2 separate regions of the Homo sapiens genome follow, and region 2 is linked to region 1. A link means that fine-mapping ties the variant in region 1 to the expression of a gene that starts in the linked region. Tissue or cell type: whole blood. Region 1 holds a variant in brackets; the other region holds the start of a gene. All regions are shown on one strand. Distances are from middle to middle.

The links. PIP is the estimated chance that this variant, and not a neighbour inherited with it, causes the effect.
Region 2: TPRA1 starts here. The variant in region 1 is fine-mapped to the expression of TPRA1 in whole blood (TOPMed, PIP above 0.99).

The regions. Positions count from the first base shown.
Region 1 is chr3:127,668,325-127,673,465 of GRCh38, reverse strand. PODXL2 (podocalyxin like 2) reads right to left here. Exons shown (of 8, transcript NM_015720.4): 5 at 4,869-5,025; 6 at 4,264-4,325; 7 at 1,853-2,032; 8 at 664-1,198. The coding sequence ends at 986. It overlaps ABTB1 (ankyrin repeat and BTB domain containing 1), which reads right to left and starts at 514. Exons shown (of 12, transcript NM_172027.3): 1 at 385-514. The coding sequence starts at 440. RefSeq lists silencers at 143-402, 543-1,142, 1,153-1,232. The variant G/A (reference allele first, on the strand shown) is at 2,406.
Region 2 is chr3:127,587,602-127,592,742 of GRCh38, reverse strand. TPRA1 (transmembrane protein adipocyte associated 1) reads left to right here and starts at 2,010. Exons shown (of 11, transcript NM_001136053.4): 1 at 2,010-2,333. RefSeq lists silencers at 1,358-1,687, 2,188-2,657 and enhancers at 2,391-3,067, 3,068-3,745.

The DNA.
Region 1 (5,141 bases):
GCACGAGAGAAAGGGGCCACGTCTGGAGTCCCAGGCCTATACCCGCGCCCTGCGCCCGGGGGGTCTGACGTCCGGGCCCTACCAGGGCGAACAGTGGCCCGCCTTCTCTCCGCCCACTTCTGCGCCTTCGGGCCTCCGCTGAGCAGTCCCTTCTTACAGGAAGCCCTCCGGGGGTCAATGGCCATCAGTGTCCCCGCCCCAGCGCGCTTCCGCTGGGGGGCTGCGGCGGGGGTCCGGGTGGTCTGCCCCGCGGGGGCGCTCCGAGGGCTGTGACCCGGCAGAGGCGCCCGCCTCTCCGCGGCCGCCCAGCCGCCCGTCCCAGGGCCCGAGGCGTTCCGAGGGCGGCCACCTCCCGCACCCTCCCCGGGACTGCGAGGTCCTCACCGCACTCGGCCCACATCCCCCTTCCTGCAGCTGGCGAACAGGTCGCTGGTGTCCATGGCGCGGAGGATGGTACCCGAGCCGAACGACCTCGGGCGGCGAAGCCGCGCACCCGGCGGATGTAAACACGCTCAGCCCCGCCCCGCCCCGCTCTGCAGCGGCGTCCGGAGGACCCGCCCGCCCCGGCCTCCCCGCCCCGCGGCCCCGCCCCTGCCCCGGGGTGCCCCGCCCGCCCCGCCCCGCCCCAACCCCGGAAATAAGAATGAGTCAAGAAGGCAGACGCGCTGGGCCCGGCGTGGTCTCCGGGCGGGTTTAATTGAGTCCCGGGGCGCAGGAAGCGCCGCCCGCCGCCCGCGGGGCCGGGGTTCAGGGGCGGGAAAGCGGGGCCAAGGCGGGCTTTGAGGCCTGCCCCTCGGGCGGGAGTGAGGGAGTTGGTCCGAAGCCGCCGTGTGAAGTCGGGGGAAGCGGGAAGGAGCCCGCGCCGAGGGCCAGGCCGCGGGGGCGGCCCGGGTAGGCGCGGGGCTGGTGCGGGCTCCGGGCCGTCCGTTTCGGGGTCCACCTCGCTTGGTCCTGGCGGCCCACTCGGCCTGCGCCTCGGCTGCGCTCACAGGTGCGTGTCCTCCTCGAACACGTCCGAGTCCTCGGGGTCCCGCTTGCCCCCCATGAGCGCCCCCCAGCTCCCCGGGCCGTTGAGGGCCCCGCCGCCGTTCAGGCTGGGGTGCTTCTCCTGCATCTCCGACTGGCTGTCGCTGGCCACGTCCAGCGTGGGGTTGTCGTGGCAGCCGTTCTCCACGAAGCGCAGCTCCTCGCCGTGCGACTGAGGCGGGGTGGGGAGAGGCCATGGGCGAGCGAGCCAGCCCCCGGACAGCGCCAGGCCCGCGGCCGTCTGTGCAACCCCACCCAGGGGGTTCCCGCGGCACCCTCCACAGGTGCCAGATCCTTCTTTTCTGTTGCTGCAGCTCAACTCCTTTCTCAAAATAAACCTACTAGTCGTTGGCACTACAAAGCCCCGTGGCCTCCCTGACGTCATCGATCCCCCAACAGCCCCCTAAGAAGACTCCACTTGCGAGGTGGGCAGGGAGCATCGCTAGGGCTCTGCTCGCTTCCTCCTGGGGAGGCCTCTAGGCTGCTGGAGCCTCTCCTTGATCCTTGGGCACCACCAACGCAGGGCCTGCCTCTGGTGAGGTATTCAGGTGCTCAGGCCCTGCAGTGCCTGCGCCGGAAAGGGGCTGGTGGTGCCAGGGAGGGGCCCCCTGGTGGGGCTAGCAGCCCCCTCACTCCCTGCACCTCTGGCACCTGTCCTGGGGCTGGTGCCCTGCAGAGCAGTCAGCAGTGCTAGGCTGACCAGCTGCTTCACCCACGGGACCCTGTGCGCCCAGGAGAGTCACTGCCTCCCCTTGCAGATGAGGACACCTATCGATGGGCACTCTCCTCTCAACTGGCCCCCAGCCCCACCTGTCCCCACACTCACCACGTGCTTGAGCTTGGGCAGCCGGCGCTGCCAGCAGTTGTAGAGCAGGCCAAGCGCAATGATGATGATGCAGATGGCCCCAATGACCACCAGCACCACGAAGAGCGTGCCGTAGTCGCTGCGCACCTGGCTGGCCCGCGCCTGGCAGCTGCTGGTTGTGGAATAGTTCTGGATGCCAATCTAGGGGTGGGAGGGGCCAGTTTCCTCAGCTGAGGTCCTGGGGTGCCATGGCTCCTCTGGGGTGGTTGCATTGGGCTCGGGTGGGGATGGGGGAGCAGGCTTAGAAGGTGCTGGCACTCCCGGCTCCTGAAGTTCCCTGGCGCCTGGGCTTGCCTCTACCCCATGCCCATCCCGTTTGCCTCAGTACACCTGGAGGCCTCTCCACCCCATGCCCATGTTCCCAGCCTCCTTCACATCCCACCATAGCTTCTGCCCCAGCCGCTGAGTCTGAGCTCACTGTGGCCCTAGGCCTCCAGTGAGAGTGGACCCATGCTGCTGGACACCATCCAACTAGAGAGAGTGCCCACACCTATCCTAACTAGTTAGAGAGACA[G/A]GAGATGTGAGCCCCCCACACATCCTCCACCATACAACCGCTTCCACCTCGGTGGGGAGGGGTGGACCAGTCAGCTTCCTGATGCCAGGGCCGGTGCAGGGAGGGATACTGAGGGCATGCAGGCCACATGGGGGGCCACCCCGGCTGCCCAGCTTCCTCCCTTCCCATGGCGTGTTCACTGCTGGCATGTAGCTGCCTGCATCCCTCCACGCTGCAGGTTGTCATGGTCAGTCCTGCCTTCTCTGGCCAAGGAGATCGGCGCCAGGGGCCAGGCAGGTGCTATCTCCACAGATCAGCATCTTAGCAGAGAGAAGCAGGAGGGCGAGCACCACCAGGGGCTCCTCAGGTGAGGGATCAGGGCAGTTCCCAGTGCTGAGGCCTAGGTTGCACCAGGCCCCCTTTCTGAGTTCAGGTTGCAGCTCTTCCCCGGTTTCTGTGAACCACCCGTGTATCTCCAGTACTTTTCTCAATTTTTTGTTATCAAGGGTCAGTTTTTCTTGCTAGATTCACCTGAGTATATTTCCAAAGACCCAGCATGACTTTTGGCCAAGTCAGTGTGAATTAAGTGACCAGTAACGCCAGAATACTCAGGGGCAGCGAAAAGCAGGGGGAGGACTGTATAAAAGGTCAAGGTTAGCCCACACTTCCACCAGCAGCCCCACTGTTCATGGACCCACGATTCCAGAACTGGGAAGGGCCTCAGTGGCCCTCCAGGCAGTAGAGCAGTGTGGTGAAAGGCCCGGGCTCCGGAATCAGGCTTCCTGCAAAGCCTGGCTCTACCGCTTACTGCTGGTGCCATCTCAGACAGGTCACCTAACCTCTCCCGCTTCAGCTCTCATCTTCCATGGGGACACCATTGGTACTCAACAGGTGCCTCACTTAACCCTCACAACCCCATGGGGTGGTGGCGAGGACTGAGGGAGAGAGCCTTGCACAGTGTGGTGCTCAGTGGGCATTCGACATGCTCACCAGAAAAGCACCACCACCAGGGCCTCTGCTCCCCTGGCATGCAAGGATGAAGAGGCGGCCAGCATTATACCACTCATCTCTCCTGCCAAAAATGGCAGCACCTTCGGGAGTGGAGAGGGCTGATGACAGGGCACTGGACTCTACAGTGAGCAAAGGCAGTTTTGGTGGAGATGGTGGCTGTCCTCAAGAAGTGAGATGAGGAACAGAAGGACCCCATAGGCAAGGTGGTGTGAGGAGCAGGACTGGGGGACCCTGCCATCCCATCCAAGCTTGTGCGGCAGCTGGGTAGGAGAGGTTGATCGGGATGGGCCAGGCAGCCAGCAGACTGCACTGGGTGGGGGCACCTCCTAAGATGGCAGGGCTGCCTCCTGGCCCCCAGGCGCCGCATCTCACCGCAGCAGGAGCGCAGGGCCTGGCCGTGCAAGCACCAGTAGATTCACACGTCCACGCCAAGTCACATGTCCAGGTCTCCCAGGCTTGCTCTTTTGGTTTCTGGAACCCATCATGCTCGCCCCTCCCACCAGGCAGCATGGTGTCTCTGCCACTGTCTACCCAGAAAACTCCCAGTTAACCCTCACTGCTCCCCAGACCCTTCCTCTCTGGGCCCTCTCCTGACTGTCAGCCTCTTAGCACAGCCCCCACACCCCCATGGCCCCTTTCTGCCCCTGGCCATTGCCTGCATTGGACCTTTGGTTGGTAGCATGCACATGCACCGTCTTTCCCACAAAACCATGTCTAAGGGAGGCCTGAAGCAAGGAACCTGCCCAGAGCACGCTCTGTCTTATACTCCTTTGAACCTCACGATGTGGGCAGACTCCTGGGACTTTGAGGAACAGAGACAGGAGGGAGCATATTAGAAGCTAACAGGTCCAGGTCCCTGCACTCTTACCTCCTCCAGGCTCCTGCGGATGTCACCCAGCATGGAAAGGACATCTTGAGTGGGCACCACCCCTGGGGGGTAAGAAACACCACTATCAGTGTGACCATGGCTGAGGTGCGTGCCCCTCCAAGGGCTCTGGCCCCGCTCTCCAACAGCTGGCCTGAGCCTCTGTCTCCCTTCCTGGCTCAAATTGCACACAGATCCTCAAGGCACATGCCTCCCCCTCTCTTAGACATGCTTTCCACTGCATCGATCTGTTAGAACATCGATTTGTATAACACCAGCCAGCCACTTGCGAAGCCCACACACTGCCTTCTGAACACACCCCTTCTCCCCTGCCACACCAGGTACAGTGTCCATTCATCTCCCACCTGTGCTGGACCACACCTGTTCCCCTGCCTCCTGTTCCCCATCCTTAATTCTCACACCCTCCTCCTTGTCCCCAGAACCCAAGCTGGTGGGTACACCTTGACCACTAAGCTAAGTAGCTCAAACTACTGTCCTGGAGTTCCAAGTTTCAAAGCCCTTATGCGTGCACTTTTTTCCCGTGACCCTCAGGGGCCGCCCGCCTCCCACTGCCCTCCTGGGCCCTCCCATCACCTGCCCTCGCTCACCCTGCTCGCCCACCAGTGTCATGAGAAGGTGCTGCTCCTTCTCGCTGGGCTTGCTCAGAGAGATGTGCCAGGCCCCATGGTGGCCACTGCCATGGCGGGGCAGCACCTCTTCCACCAGGGCCAGGAGCTGTGGCCCCCGGTGCTGCCGGAACACCTCCTACAAGGGCAGAAAGAGCCCCCCGTGTTCAGTGAAGGAAAGGGGCTCTACTGAGCCCTCTGCCTCTAGGCCCAGCCCCGTACTCACCCTCAACCCTCTGGCTGTTCCAAGAGAGG
Region 2 (5,141 bases), 81 kb after region 1:
ATGCCATTTTAGGCCTCAGCCCACCTGCACCCAGGCGCTCATTAAAACAGCATGTTGCGGCCGGGCGCGGTGGCTCACGCCTGTAATCCCAGCACTTTGGGAGGCCGAGGCGGGTGGATCATGAGGTCAGGAGATCGAGACCATCCTGGCTAACAAGGTGAAACCCCGTCTCTACTAAAAATACAAAAAATTAGCCGGGCGCGGTGGCGGGCGCCTGTAGTCCCAGCTACTCGGGAGGCTGAGGCAGGAGAATGGCGTGAACCCGGGAAGCGGAGCTTGCAGTGAGCCGAGATTGCGCCACTGCAGTCCGCAGTCCGACCTGGGCGACAGAGCGAGACTCCGTCTCAAAAAAAAAAAAAAAAAAAAAAAAAAAAACAGCATGTTGCTCCACACCGCCTCGTGTTGTGTGTCGGCGCGCTCGCAGGGTTCGAACCGATACAAGAACCTTACAGAGGGTAGTTATTAGGCCTGGTCACACATGTCCCATGACTTCTACTTCCTGGCACATGGTAGGGTGGCAGTTTCCTGCCCTCTGGAGGCTAGAAGCGGTGGCCAATTGAATGTGCGTGAGAGTGATGTGTATAACTTTCTGGGAGGAACTTGAGGAGCCACTGGATTCCCCACGGCTCATTGTGGCTGTGGTCATTCGTGATTACGCAGGCCGGCATTGCCCAGCCTCTCTGGCGAATATAGAAGCCTAAACTTAGGTATGCACATTTGGGTGTGGTCCAGGCTGGGAAAGTCCCAGAGGATCACAAGGTGGTTTCTTCCCCAATCTCCCTGTGTTTTTAGGACAGGAGCAAGGAGAAGAATGGGACCCAATCTCATTCCAGCCCAGCGGTGCTGTCGCAAGGTGTGAGTCTTGGGGTGCCTGTAATAACTGAGTGCCTACAATCTGCACGAGGCTCTGAGTCAGCCTCAGGATGCTGCAGGGGACATCCTGCAGCTTGGCTCTCTTGGCTCCATCCTCATGACGCTGGAATTCTATAATAGGGTGGGGAGACTGGACGGGGAGGCAGGTAAATGAAAACAATCAGGTGAGAATTAAGATGCTCGGAAGGAAATGAGACTGGACAGCCGCTCCAGCGAGGGTGTCCACAAAACCCTCTAGAGGACATGATGTGGCAAGGAGCCAGCTCTGCGGGGGAACAGGTGTAGAGCCAGGAGCAGGAACAAGCTTGGAACAGCCGAGGGACAGAAACAGAGACCCGCATGGCTTGAGTATGGTGAATGCAGCATCGATGCCAGGGGATAAGACAGGCGCAATCAGGGAGGGCTTTCCAGAGGAACAGGCGTGAAGAACTGTGGAAGTTAGAGTTGGGGAGAGGCGTCCTGGCTGTGTCGCTTCCTCATTGCGCGGCTTTGGTCAAGTTATTTGACCTCTCCAAGCCTCAGGTGGCCCTGTAAAAGGTGACTATAATGACTGCCTAGCAGGGTTGCTAAGAGGAGTGCCCGAGGCATGGCGGCGCCGCGTGGAGCAGGGCGCTGGGAGGCGGCGGCCCTGCGGCGTGGCGCGGCTGGAGCGCGTGGCGCCGGGGAGGGTCCCCGACACGCCTTCCCCCAAGCTGACCCCAGGTCACCCCTGCAGGGCGCCCGAAGCGCCCGCACGCGAGGGGGCGGTCCCCGGAGGCTCCGCCCCGACGGTCCGGCCGCGGCCCAGGCCGGGAGGTGGAGCGCGGCTGCCGCCAGCTGGTCCACTGACAACTGCTGCCAGCTGGAAGGCGCGTAGGGCGAGAGGTGGCGCGTCCTCAGCTTTCCAGTCTTCGATTCCGCCCGCTTTCCGAGTGAGAAACGCAGGCCTCTCTCTTCCGTGAAGCAGCGTCTTGTCTCTGCACCTCCTCTGTGCTGTCTCTTTAAGAGGTCAGCGGGCTGCTCCGCCTCTTGGGAATTTGATTGGTCTCTCCCACTTTTTTTTTTTTTTCCCCCAGTGATGACTTATTCCTATAGGCTGCTGGAGGTTAGAGGGCGGGCCTGAGTGATAACAGGGACTCTGGGACTCTGGGACTTGTGGGACTGTGGCCGTTTTCGCAATTTGGGCTGGACGAAAAAGACGGTCTTGCTTTCCCGGTCGCCGCTGTCGGGAAGGGCTGCAGGGTGTCCGCGAGACCCGCGGCCCGGCGAGCTGACCCCGCCTCGCCTTTCCTGCCTAGCCCTCATTCCACGGAGCCGGTCGCGCCCGGTCCTTGCGCGACGCTTCCCGGCCCAGGCCGCCTGGTCTGGCGCTGGAGGCCGGAGTCCCGCGGCCTGTGCTGGATCCGCGCACACCCAGTGGCGGCGGATGGGCGGCCGGGGCGGCCGGGGCGGCCGGTCCTGAGCGCGGCCCGGGCTGTCAGGTAAGGAGGGGCCTTCTCCCCGTCTCCTGCCGCAGCTAGAGGGGGAGCCCCGTCCCTCGCCCCGGCGGGAAGCCCAGCCGCCGTTCCCCTCCTTGCTCCGCGAGCGGCCCATTTCCGCTCGGGCGCAGCTCGGACGGCCAAGGCGGCGTTTGGGAGGGAAGGCCCTGGATGTGGGAACCCACGGGAGGGGTGCCGGGCAGTCGGGAGTCGCTCGGGGCGCGGGGGCACGCGAGGCCCGGGAGGGAGCCGCACGTAGCGGCGTCGGGCTCGGCCCCGGCTGGAGGCAGTGCGGGTGGAGATCCGGACCTCGGCGACCCGGTCCGGCGCGGGGTGGCGGCACGGGCTCCAGCCCCACGGTGGCTGCCCGCAGCGGCCGAGGTGCTCCTGAGCCAAGCCTGCCGCCGGTTCGGGGCTTTGCTGCCCCGTGAGGGGGCCATGTCGAAGCCTCCGCTCCCTCTGGACTCGGGGAATGCAGGTGGGGGCTGGCTTTGCCCTCTTCTCTGCAGTGAGGAGGGGCCGCAGGGTCGTCCAGTCCCCAGCGGGGCTTGGCGGTGCTGGAGATTCAGTTGTTCCCGTCATAACAACCTGTTGAGGGCTCGTGTCGTGCCAGGCCTTGTTCTAGGGGACCGAGTCCTGAGCACTCCCGGGATAGAGAGTAGTAAATACCCAGACGCGGCTCGGGCGCTGGAGACAGCTGAGAAGGGAAGGCTTCTCAGAGGAGGTGTCAGGAGAGAGCTGGGGGAGAGCCAGCCCAAAGGCCCTGAGGAACGGACCAGCTCAGCAGGTGGAAGGCAAGCAGGGAGGGCAAGGTGCAGGTCAGATTGGGCCCAGGCCTCCCCATCTTACTGGGGTCTCCGGCTTAGGACAGGGACCACACGCCTGCCAGCCCCAAGGCCGAAGGACAACAGGGGAGAGCAAAGTAACTTACTTGGCCTCTGCCCTATGGAGCCTTCCCCACCTTGTCACCCCTGGGCTCCACCCCTTCTCACCACCCTTAGGCCCTAGGGTTTGTAAGCTCAACAACCCGTCGGTGTGGGAAGCACTGAGGGCCCCTCTCCCCAGGGTTTCCTATCCGGTAGCTGTGGGTGGGGTTTGGTCAATCCTGTTGCACAGATGAGAGAGCAGGGAAAGCTGAGTCCCAGAGAGGAGAGAGAAGGCCTTACCCAGTCGTTCTCAGCGGGTCCTGCATTGCGTGACCATGACCTGAGCCTAGCCAGCATCCTGTCCCTCAACTGGGTGGGAGGGAGGGAGGCAGAGGCCCCTGGAATGTTGTGAGTCTGGGAGACTCCTCCCAGGTGGAAGAAACAGTCTGTCCCAGTTTCCCTGTTCCTGGGAGGCCTGGGGTTGCCCAGGGTGCTCTGCACCGCAGGAATTCCTCCTCTGAGAATCACCCCTGGGCTCCACCCCTTCTCACCACCCCTTCTCACCACCCTTAGGCCCCTATCGTGAGCTGACCAACCCCTCCCACTTCTTTGTCAGTGCTTGGGAGCATCAGTCTAAGAGAACTAAGTAGAGAAGGCTGAGGACTGACCCCTTCTCTGCCTCTCCTCTCCTCTGTATAAGGGGACAGTAATTGTCCTCTCTCCCTTAGAAGGCGATGCCATTGTTAAGTGTGTCACCACGTGTAAAGCACTGAGCACCATGTCTGCACATAGGAAGTGTGCATCCTATTAACTAAAAGTCAGTGCGGGCCAGGCGCAGTGGCTCATGCCTGTAATCGTAGCACTTTGGGAGGCTGAAGTGGGTGGATCATCTGAGGTCAGGAGTTTGAGACCAGCTTGGCCAACATGGTGAAACCCCATTTCTACTAAAAATACAAAAATTAGCCGGGTGTGGTGGTGCACACCTGTAATCCCAGCTACTCAGGAGGCTGAGGCGGGAGAATCGCTTGAATCCAGGAGGCGGAGGTTGCAGTGACCCAAGATCGCACCATTGCACTCCAGCCTAGGTGACAAAGCGAGACTCTGTCTCAAAAAAAAAAAAAAAAAAAAGTCAGTGCTTCAGTTATTTCCTAAGCTTTGATACGTAATGGCAATCCTGGTATGGCCAGCAGCCCCATAACCCCAGTGTGGTTGCTGGATCAAGTAGCAGCAGCAGGGGCACCACCTGGGAGCCTGTGGGAAACACAGACTGTTCAGCCCTACCCCTGCCCTTGGGAGCAGCATCTGCATGTTAACAACACCAGGGTATTTCCCACATCAGGTCTGAGAAGATAGCTCTAGAACAAGCCTGGTGCTCTTGACCCACAGGTGGAGAAGCCGAGGCCTGGAGAGGGGCACCTGGCAAGTTGTTGACTGGGGGCCTGGGCTCTGGAGACAGACAGCCTGGATTGCTGGCCTGGCAAGTGGCTGCCCCTCTGAGCTCCACGTGCACAATGCGGATAACATAAGTACCTCCCTCCCAGGGTTGGAGGCCAGGGCTCAGAGGTTAGGCACAGAGGTTACTACGTTGTTGGCAGGGGAGTGGGGGCAGGCAGAGCAGCTGACACCTCCTCTGTGTTTCCTCAGACCCCACAGCAATGGGGGCTTCACAAGAGGTCCATGGACCTGGGAACCAATTCCTTTCCCTCCTTGCCCTTCAGTCTCTTCTCTGGTAATCCCAGCAACTTGGGAGGCTGAGGTGGGAGAATTGCTTGAACCCGGGAGGTGGAGGTTGCAGTGAGCCGACATCGCGCCACTGCACTCCAGCCTGGACGACAGAGCAAGACTCTGTCTCAAAAAAAAAAAAAAAAAAAGAAAAGCAGCAACCACCTTTGTACATGTGTCACTTTTGTAGATGTTTACATCCCTGGTTTTGTTTGATCCTTAC